Homo sapiens: one gene and its partner. The protein of the gene in region 2 interacts with the protein of the main gene of each other region in a pairwise test. Each region holds a gene or a part of one and is shown on either strand. Other genes may lie near its edges.

Region 1 (3,500 bases), on a different chromosome or scaffold from region 2:
GTTCAGAATTACTTGTTGCTTTTGCATTATAATTCATTGGAATTTATGACCCATTTATTAATGTCATTAAAATTTTGTTTTTTTTTCCCTTTTATTTGTTGCTCTGGGGGTTAAAATGATTTTCAAGGACATTACGTTTTCTTTAAATAATGTATTTCTTCTCAAATGATCTTAAATTATGTGATACTCTAACCTTCTGTGTCTTGGGAACTCTAAAGCACTGTATTTTCTATGAGAAAAAAAGATCAATTTTAAAACTGTGGGGAACCCAACCAAATCTGTCTTAAGCAATGGGATGTTGTTTTCACTTTAATTGATGTATTTCATTTTTGTGGAAGTAAACTTTTTAAAGATATATTTTTGAATGATTTAGCACCTGGCATTAGCAGTGGGTTTTAGGAGTCTGAATTTGACTCAAAAGCTTCAACATTTATTACCTGCCCATTATCTGCAAGATTTTGGGCAAAAATTGTGACACAGCCGTAACCAATGGGTATAACTAAAAGTTGCATGAATTAAGTGTGGTGGAAGATTCAGGAAAGGATAATTCATTTTGATATGGTTTTGGGGAACGTGGTATTGTGGATGGAAGAGATTGTGGGGTTCTTAATAAGGAGATCATGCTTAAACCTCAGTGGATAAGAATGATTTGGGAGATCTAGTAGATGATCAAGAGCATTCTAACCCTGAGGAATACAATGAACACAATAGCATCTTGAAGGTGTACCTAATATTTCAACCACTACACAGTAAACAGATGCAATGGCAGCATGGGCTGGTAGAAAATGTAGTGGGAGATAAGGTTGGCTAGGTGGTTTGTGGGGGCAGTAGTTGCCTCAGATGCTATGTTGTGTGTTTGGATTTGTTTTTTCTGTAGGCAACAGGGACCAAAAAAAAAAATACTTTGTAGAAGTATCCACAAATAATTTAATGGATAAGTACACTGTGGTTCATTTATTTATTATAAATTGTGATACCATATAACAATGAAAATACAGCTTTAGCAACAACAGGGATGAATTTTACAAATGTAATTTTGGTCAAAAGATGCACAAAGTAATATATGCTGAATGATTCAATTAAGTTTTAAATGGTGCAGGAACTGAACAGGATTGGTTAGGGATACACACATAGGGGATAAAACTACAAAGAAAATAAAAGACATTCTCGAATCCGAGACGTGCAGGCACACACACACACATATGCATTCTTATCTATGGTATATTTTATGAAAAATACTGAAATATGAAAAAATGCTAAAAAATGATATTCATGAGAACTCAGAGGAGTTTGGTAAAATAGAGGCCACATAGAGTGCCTGTCTCAAAAAGCAGGGTTTCCACAACTGAAGTAGATTGGGTAACAGTCCCATAGTTTTGTGGTGATGAGGGGCCTCAGATAATACTATCTCACTCATTTCACCAATGAAGAACATGTTTTTAGAATTTTTTCCTTCATTTAAAATTTTATTTATTTAAAAATTAACTAACATAGCCTTACAGTTCAGATGTTTAAATGTACAGAAGGGTAAACATTTTGATGTCTTCCCACGCCTGTCCCTGTCTACGCAGTTTCCTCTCAGAAGCAACCCATGTTGTACTTGTAAGCACATCCTGAAATGGAATGAGCCCAATGTAATAGAAAATGTTGGTTTTTTTTTAAATATCAACTTTTTGTGGTTTACCACCAATAAAATGCCCATACTGTAAGTATACAGTCAAATGTATCATATGTGCCTGTGTAACCATACTGGCAGTTGAGATCTAGAATATTTCATCACCCTTAAAGGCTTCTTTGCATCCCTGTTCTATCAGCACCCACCCCTGGGGACTGATCTGTTTCTGTCACTGTTGACTAGGTTGGACTTCCCTAAAGCTTTGTATAAATGGTGTTATTTAGGGTGATAGGGTGATGTCCTTTTTTTTTTTTTTTTGAGACGGAGTCTCTCTCTCTCTCCCAGACTGGAGTGCAGTGGTGCGATCTTGGCTCACTGCAACCTCCACCTCCTGGGTTCTAGCGATTCTCCTGCCTCAGCCTCCCGAGTAGCTGGGACTACAGGCACATGCCACCAAGCCTGGCTAATTTTTGTATTTTTAGTGGTGACAGGGTTTCACCATATTGGTCAGGCTGGTCACGAACTCCTGATCTCAGGTGATCTGCCTGCCTCAGCCTCCTAAAGTGTGTGATGTCTTTTGTGTCTGGCTTTGCTTACTCAGCGTAGTTTTGTGATTCATCTCTGCTGTGTGTATCAGTTATTTGCTGCTTTGTATTGCTGGGTAGTGTACCACTTTGATGATGTACCACAATTTGTTTATCCATTTGCTAGTTGATGTTCCTTCAGGTAGTTTTCATGTTTGACTATTATGAATAAAGCTATTGGAAAACATCACGTAGAAATCTTTGTGTGAAGTGTCTGTTTTTGGTGAGGAAAGTGGTAAGCCCTGATGGTTGCCTTGGATAGGCACAGAATGGAGTGAAAGGTCCGTTTCCTAAGTCTTGCTGATCGCTGTATTGAAATTTAATGGCTTATGATGCAGCTCCTCTTTTGGGCATGTTACATCTGCAGCCTAGAAAGCGTCTCTGATGTGATTTTTTTTTTTATTCAAGTTCTAGGGTACGTGTGCACAACGTGCAGGTTTGTTACGTATGTATACATGTGCCATGTTGGTGTGCTGCACCCATTAACTCATCATTTACATTAGATGTATCTCCTAATGCTATCCCTCCCCACTCCCCCGACCCCATGACAGGCCCTGGTGTGTGATGTTCCCCTTCCTGTGTCCAAGTGTTCTCATTGTTCAGTTTCCACCTATAAGTGAGAACATGCAGTGTTTGGTTTTTTTGTCCTTGTGATAGTTTCCTGAGAATGGTTTCCAGCTTCATTCATGTCCCTACAAAGGACATGAACTCATCCTTTTTTATGGCTGCATAGTATTCCATGGTGAATATGTGCCACATTTTCTTAATCCAGTCTATCATTGATGGGCATTTGGGTTGGTTCCAAGTCTTTGGTATTGTGAATAGTGCCGCAATAAACATATGTGTGCATGTGTCTTTATAGCAGCATGATTTATAGTCCTTTGGGTATATACCCAGTAATGGGATGGCTGGGTCAAATGGTATTTCTAGTTCTAGATCCCTGAGGAATCGCCACACTGACTTCCACAATGGTTGAACTAGTTTACAGTCCCACCAACAGTGTAAAAGTGTTCCTATTTCTCCACATCCTCTGCAGCACCTGTTGTTTCCTGACTTTTTAATTATCGCCATTCTAACTGGTGTGAGATGATATCTCATTGTGGTTTTGATTTGCATTTCTCTGATGGCCAGTGATGAGCATTTTTTCCATGTGTCTTTTGGCTGCATAAATGTCTTCTTTTGAGAAGTGTCTGTTCATATCCTTCGCCCACTTTTTGATGGGGTTGTTCGATTTGTTCTTGTAAATTTGTTTAAGTTCTTTGTAGATTCTGGATATTAGCCCTTTGTCAGATGAGTAGATT
Region 2 (5,427 bases):
GATGTTTTCATCATGCAAAACTTTGCGTTTGTTATGTTCTGTGTACCCTTCATTAAGATGCTGTTGCAGGCTGTGCTCGCCCAATATGAGACAGTCCAAAAAAGAGGAAAATCCTTCCTGAGATCTAGGAGGTCTAACACAAGGCCCAAATAGCAAACCAGTACAAATATTCCTCCAAGTGTGGAAAAAGGCAATCAAATGGTGATAAATAAATGTGAACTATGCACATATTAACATGAATGAACAGGGAATGATGCAAATGAAGAAATTGGGGCAATTTTAATTCAGATAAAATTATTTCATATGAAAGGATAAATACTGGTTTGCTTTATGGCTTATCTTTGATCACTGATTACTGATAAAAATTATTATGGGCAAATGAAAATGGTGGTGCCATTCCCTGAGCTGAAGAATACAAAGAAGGGGCCGGGGTGGGTAGCATTCTGTTCTGGAAATGTGTACATTGAAATGCCTGGAGGTGATCAAATGCAGAGATGTTTGGCAGTAAATAGATCTGGTACTTCAAAGAGATCTCAATAGTCCATCGTCTTCATCTGTAAAAAGAGAAAATAATCTCTACTTCATTAAATCAGTGATTGGTACTATACAATGCGTCACTTTAAAAAATGAGCCTGGGTATTTCTTAGTATTGCAAAACTTATAGCTGGGCACAGTGGCTCATGTGTCTAATCCCAGCACTTTGGGAGGCTGTGGCAGGCAGATTGCTTGAGCTCAAGGAGTTTGAGACCAGCCTGGGCAACATGGGGAAACCCCATCTGTACTAAAAATATAAAAATTAGCTGGACGTGGTGGCGGGTGCCTGTAATCCCAGCTCCTCAGGAGGCTGAGGCAGGAGAATCACTTGAACCTGGGAGGCAGAGGTTGCAGTGAGCCAAGACTGTGCCATTGCACTCTAGCCTGGGCGACAGAGTGACACTCCATCTCAAAAAACAAAAAAACTGTTACAATACTGCATTTGTTAGAATGATTACTTCAAGGTCATCTATTTTGTCCATATTTTATAATCTTATGTTTTATGTATAAAATTTTTTTCAGCTTGAAACGGAGACTTTCTACTCGTTCCTCAATTTTGAATGCAAAGAATCGGAGATTGAGTAGTCAGTTTGAAAATTCAGTTTATAAAGGTGATGATGATGATGAAGATGTCATCATCTTAGAAGAAAACAGTACCCCCAAACCTGCAGTAGATCATGATATTGACATGAAATCAGAACAGAGTCACGTTGAGCAAGGTGGTGTTCAGGTTGAGTTTGTGGGTGACAGTGAACCTTGTGGCCAGACTGGTTCAACAAGCACCTCATCATCCCGATGCGACCAGGGAAATACTGCAGCTACCCAGACTGAAGTACCAAGTTTAGTTGTTAAAAAAGAAGAAACTGTTGAAGACGAGATAGACGTAAGAAATGATGCAGTGATTCTGCCCTCCTGTGTAGAAGCTGAAGCAAAGATACATGAAACCCAGGAAACCACCGATAAATCTGCAGATGATGCAGGCTGCCAATTACAAGAACTGAGAAACCAGCTACTCCTTGTCACTGAGGAAAAAGAGAATTATAAAAGACAGTGTCATATGTTTACTGATCAAATCAAAGTGTTACAACAGAGGATACTAGAAATGAATGACAAGTATGTTAAGAAAGAAACTTGCCATCAGTCCACTGAAACCGATGCTGTATTTTTACTTGAAAGTATTAATGGCAAATCTGAAAGTCCAGACCATATGGTATCTCAGTATCAGCAAGCTTTGGAAGAAATAGAAAGGCTGAAAAAACAATGTAGTGCTTTGCAACATGTAAAGGCTGAATGCAGCCAGTGTTCCAATAATGAGAGTAAAAGTGAAATGGATGAGATGGCTGTGCAGCTTGACGATGTGTTTAGACAACTGGACAAATGCAGTATTGAGAGGGACCAGTATAAAAGTGAGGTGAGTTATATCATCCAACATGTAGTCATGGAGTCCAGGGCCATTTAAACCTTAAGAAGCTGCCAGTTGGCTGGGCGCGGTGGCTCATACCTGTAATCCCACCACTTGGGGAGGCCAAGGCGGGTGGGTCAGTCACTTGAGGTCAAGGAGTTCGAGACCAGCCTGGACAAAATGGTGAAACCCCGTTTCTACTAAAAATACAAAAATTAGCCTAGCGTGGTGGTGGGAGGCTGAGGCAGGAGAATCACTTGAACCCAGGAGGCGGAGGCTGCCGTGAGCCAAGATTGCACCACCACATTCCAGCCTGGGCAACAGAGCGAGACTCTGTCTCAAAAAAAAGCTGCCAATTGCTTGATTGGAATGCTTTCACTTAAAAATAATTCTGTTCTTATTGAGTGTCTGTTATTCTACTGGTTCTCAACTGAGGAGAGGGCCTCCTGGAGGCATATGGAATTGTGTAGGGGCATTTTTGGTTCTTCCAATGTCTTGAGATGTGCATTCCTGAAAAATATTAGGGGTAGCCAGGTATGGTAAATGTCCTGTTCAGAATACCAATATTAACTTAATACCTCATTAATACAGTTAATTATGTTCTTTTTTGGGCATCAATTCTGCTTTTAAGTATAGTTAATCCTTTAGTTATGGAGTCATTCATTTTTCTAGATTATGTCTTTCAAGATTCCTGAGAGAAACTGACTTATCCCTTTTAAAATCTTTGATTAATATACATACATACATATATATATATATATATATATATATATTTTTTTTTTTTTTTTTTTTTTTTTTTTTTTTCTTCTTCTTCTTGAGACAGAATTTCGCTCTGTTGCCCAGGCTGGAGTGAGTGCAGTGGCCCAATCTCGGCTCACTGCAACCTCCACCTCCCGAGTTCAAGCGATTCTCCTGCCTCAGCGTCCCGAGTAGCTGAGATTACAGCACATGCCACCATGCCCGGCTAATTTTTGTCTTTTTATTAGAGACAGGGTTTCACCACATTGGCCAGGCTGATCTCAAACTCCTGACATCAAGTGATCCACCCATCTTGGCCTCCCAAAGTGTTGGAATTACAGGCGTGAGCCCCCATGCCTGGCCTGAGTTGCTTGTGTTCTGACTATCAGAACTGAGTCATCTGGCTAAAGGGTGCCTGGGAAATGCAGTCTTTATGCATGGGTTCTTCTACTGAGAAAGAAGGAGAAAAACGATAAATACCAAGAGACAAATGATAAATATCAGTAGCTTCTTCATATGCCCCTACTTCAAATTCAGGTAGCTCCTTTTAATCTATTTTATACATTTTTGTGTGTGAGGCCTTTGAAAGGATTTTCCTGCTAAAAAGAGTTTGGGAACCATGGTGTGGTGCTGTGCTGTCTCTTCCTTGGGAATATTTGCTACTCATGCAAACACTAATCTTGATGTCTTGGCTCAGGAGTTGAATGACAAAATACAGATGCTCCTCAACTTATGATGGTGTCAGTCCTGAAAAACCCATCATAGGTTGGAAACAGCATTAACTCCAACATTCATTTAATTACAGCCAACCTCCCAAAATCTTAGCCTAGCCTAACCTGCCTTAAAGTGCTCAGAACACTTGTGTTAGCCTACATTTGGGCAAAATCATCTAACACAAAGTCTGGTTTATTACAACATACTGAGTATTTCATGTAATGTATTGAATCTGTGCTGAAAATGAAAAACAGAATGATTGTATTGGTATGCAAAGTGTGGTTTCTATAGAATGCATATAACTTTCACACCATCATAAAGCTGGAAAATCATAAAGTCAAACCGTTGTAAGTCAGGGACCATCTGTTTATAAAAAGCATAAACTCATTATTGTAACTTAATTATAAGCTGATGAGTATGCAAGAAATAAAAACCACTGTGACATTAACATAATTTAGGCATTAGTATCTTGGTTTTTCTGTTTTGTTTTGTTTTGTTTTTTTTTTTTTTTGAGATGGAACTTCGCTCTTGTTGCCCAGGCTGGAGTGCAATGGCGTGATCTCAGCTCACCGCAACCTCCACCTCCTGGGTTCAAGCAGTTCTCCTGCCTCAGCCTCCCGAGTAGCTGAGATTACAGGCGGCTGCCATCACACCCAGCTAATTTTGTATTTTTTGTAGAGATGGGGTTTCTCCATTTTGGTCAGGCTGGTCTTAAACTCCTGATCTCAGGTGATCTGCCCACCTCAGCCTCCCAAAGTGCTGGGATTATAGGCGTGAGCCACCATGCCCGGCTGGTTTTTCATTTTCTAGGTACCACTTTTTTTTTTAAATCAAGTGGTAATATGTTGTATTCTCTCAGTGTAAAAAGATGTAGAAGTGAAGCTGTAAACGAATGAAGCCTTGTTTATAGAAAACTACTGGTTTTTCTTTGTGTATTTGTTTTTTGATAGTTGATAATGTTATCAAGCAGGTTCTCTATATTAGCTTGAAATTTCACTTTGCCATTAGTATTTTTAAGTTTTACAGTTATAAAGCTCATTTATATTTTTGTTAGGTTGAATTGCTGGAAATGGAAAAGTCACAAATCCGTTCACAGTGTGAAGAACTCAAAACTGAAGTAGAACAGTTAAAATCTACAAATCAACAGACGGCAACAGATGTTTCAACATCAAGTAACATTGAGGAGTCTGTAAATCATATGGATGGAGAAAGGTAATATTAAATGAGGCGTTTTTGTGGGGCTGCAATTATGGTTAGGATACTATTTATTTTTATCTGCTAGCACCCATCAAATAGATACTGTTCTGTCAAAAGAAGTTATTGATGGTCTGCTGTGACCCTGGTGTTATGATAGATAAAAAAGAAGTGACACTTCATTATCCTTCCTTTCCAGTTTCTGACCCTTTAGGTTCTATTTAAGTGGAATAGGAATTTAGAAGGGATAAAGCATTTGATTGGTCAGAGTGGTTTTAGAATGCTTTTTGAAGGAAAATAAAAATGGACAAGATATTGAAGAATAGGGGGAATTTGGCCATGAGTAGAAGACAGGAGACTTTTACTGAAACTCACTCCTTCAACCTGTTTTTCTTTTATTGTCGTACTTGGTACCATGTCTTTATGGCTTGCTGTCCTTATTTCACTGTATGCTCACTCTAATCTTTTAGGAAATTGCAAAATTATTAAAAATTGCCATAGTACAGATGATATTAGGAAGAAGTCCTATTAAAACAAGTAGATAGGCCAGGCGTGGTGGCTCACACCTATAATTCTAGCACTTTGGGAGGCTGAGTTGGGCGGATCACCTGAGGTCAGGAGTTCAAGACCAGCCTGGCCAACATGGTGAAACCCTGTCTCTACTAAAAGTACAAAAATTAGCCGGGCGTGGTGGCAGGCGCCTGTAGTCCCAGCTACTCGGGAGGCTCAGGCAGGAGAATCGCTTGAACCTAGGAGGTGGAGGTTGCAGTGAGCCGAGATTGCGCCACTGCACTCCAGCCTGGGTGACAGAGCAAGACTCTGTCTTAAAACCAAGCGTGGTGCCT

The links.
Region 1: the proteins of MORC3 (region 2) and RETREG1 interact in a two-hybrid assay, tested with the Homo sapiens proteins (one large-scale study listed by BioGRID and IntAct).

Annotation. Positions count from the first base shown.
Region 1 is NC_000005.10:16,610,498-16,613,997, reverse strand, and holds part of RETREG1 (reticulophagy regulator 1), read left to right. Parts: intron 1-3,500. UniProt on the Homo sapiens protein: Endoplasmic reticulum (ER)-anchored autophagy regulator which mediates ER delivery into lysosomes through sequestration into autophagosomes.
Region 2 is NC_000021.9:36,367,932-36,373,358, forward strand, and holds part of MORC3 (MORC family CW-type zinc finger protein 3), read left to right. Parts: intron 1-1,056; coding exon 1,057-1,945; intron 1,946-4,442; coding exon 4,443-4,600; intron 4,601-5,427.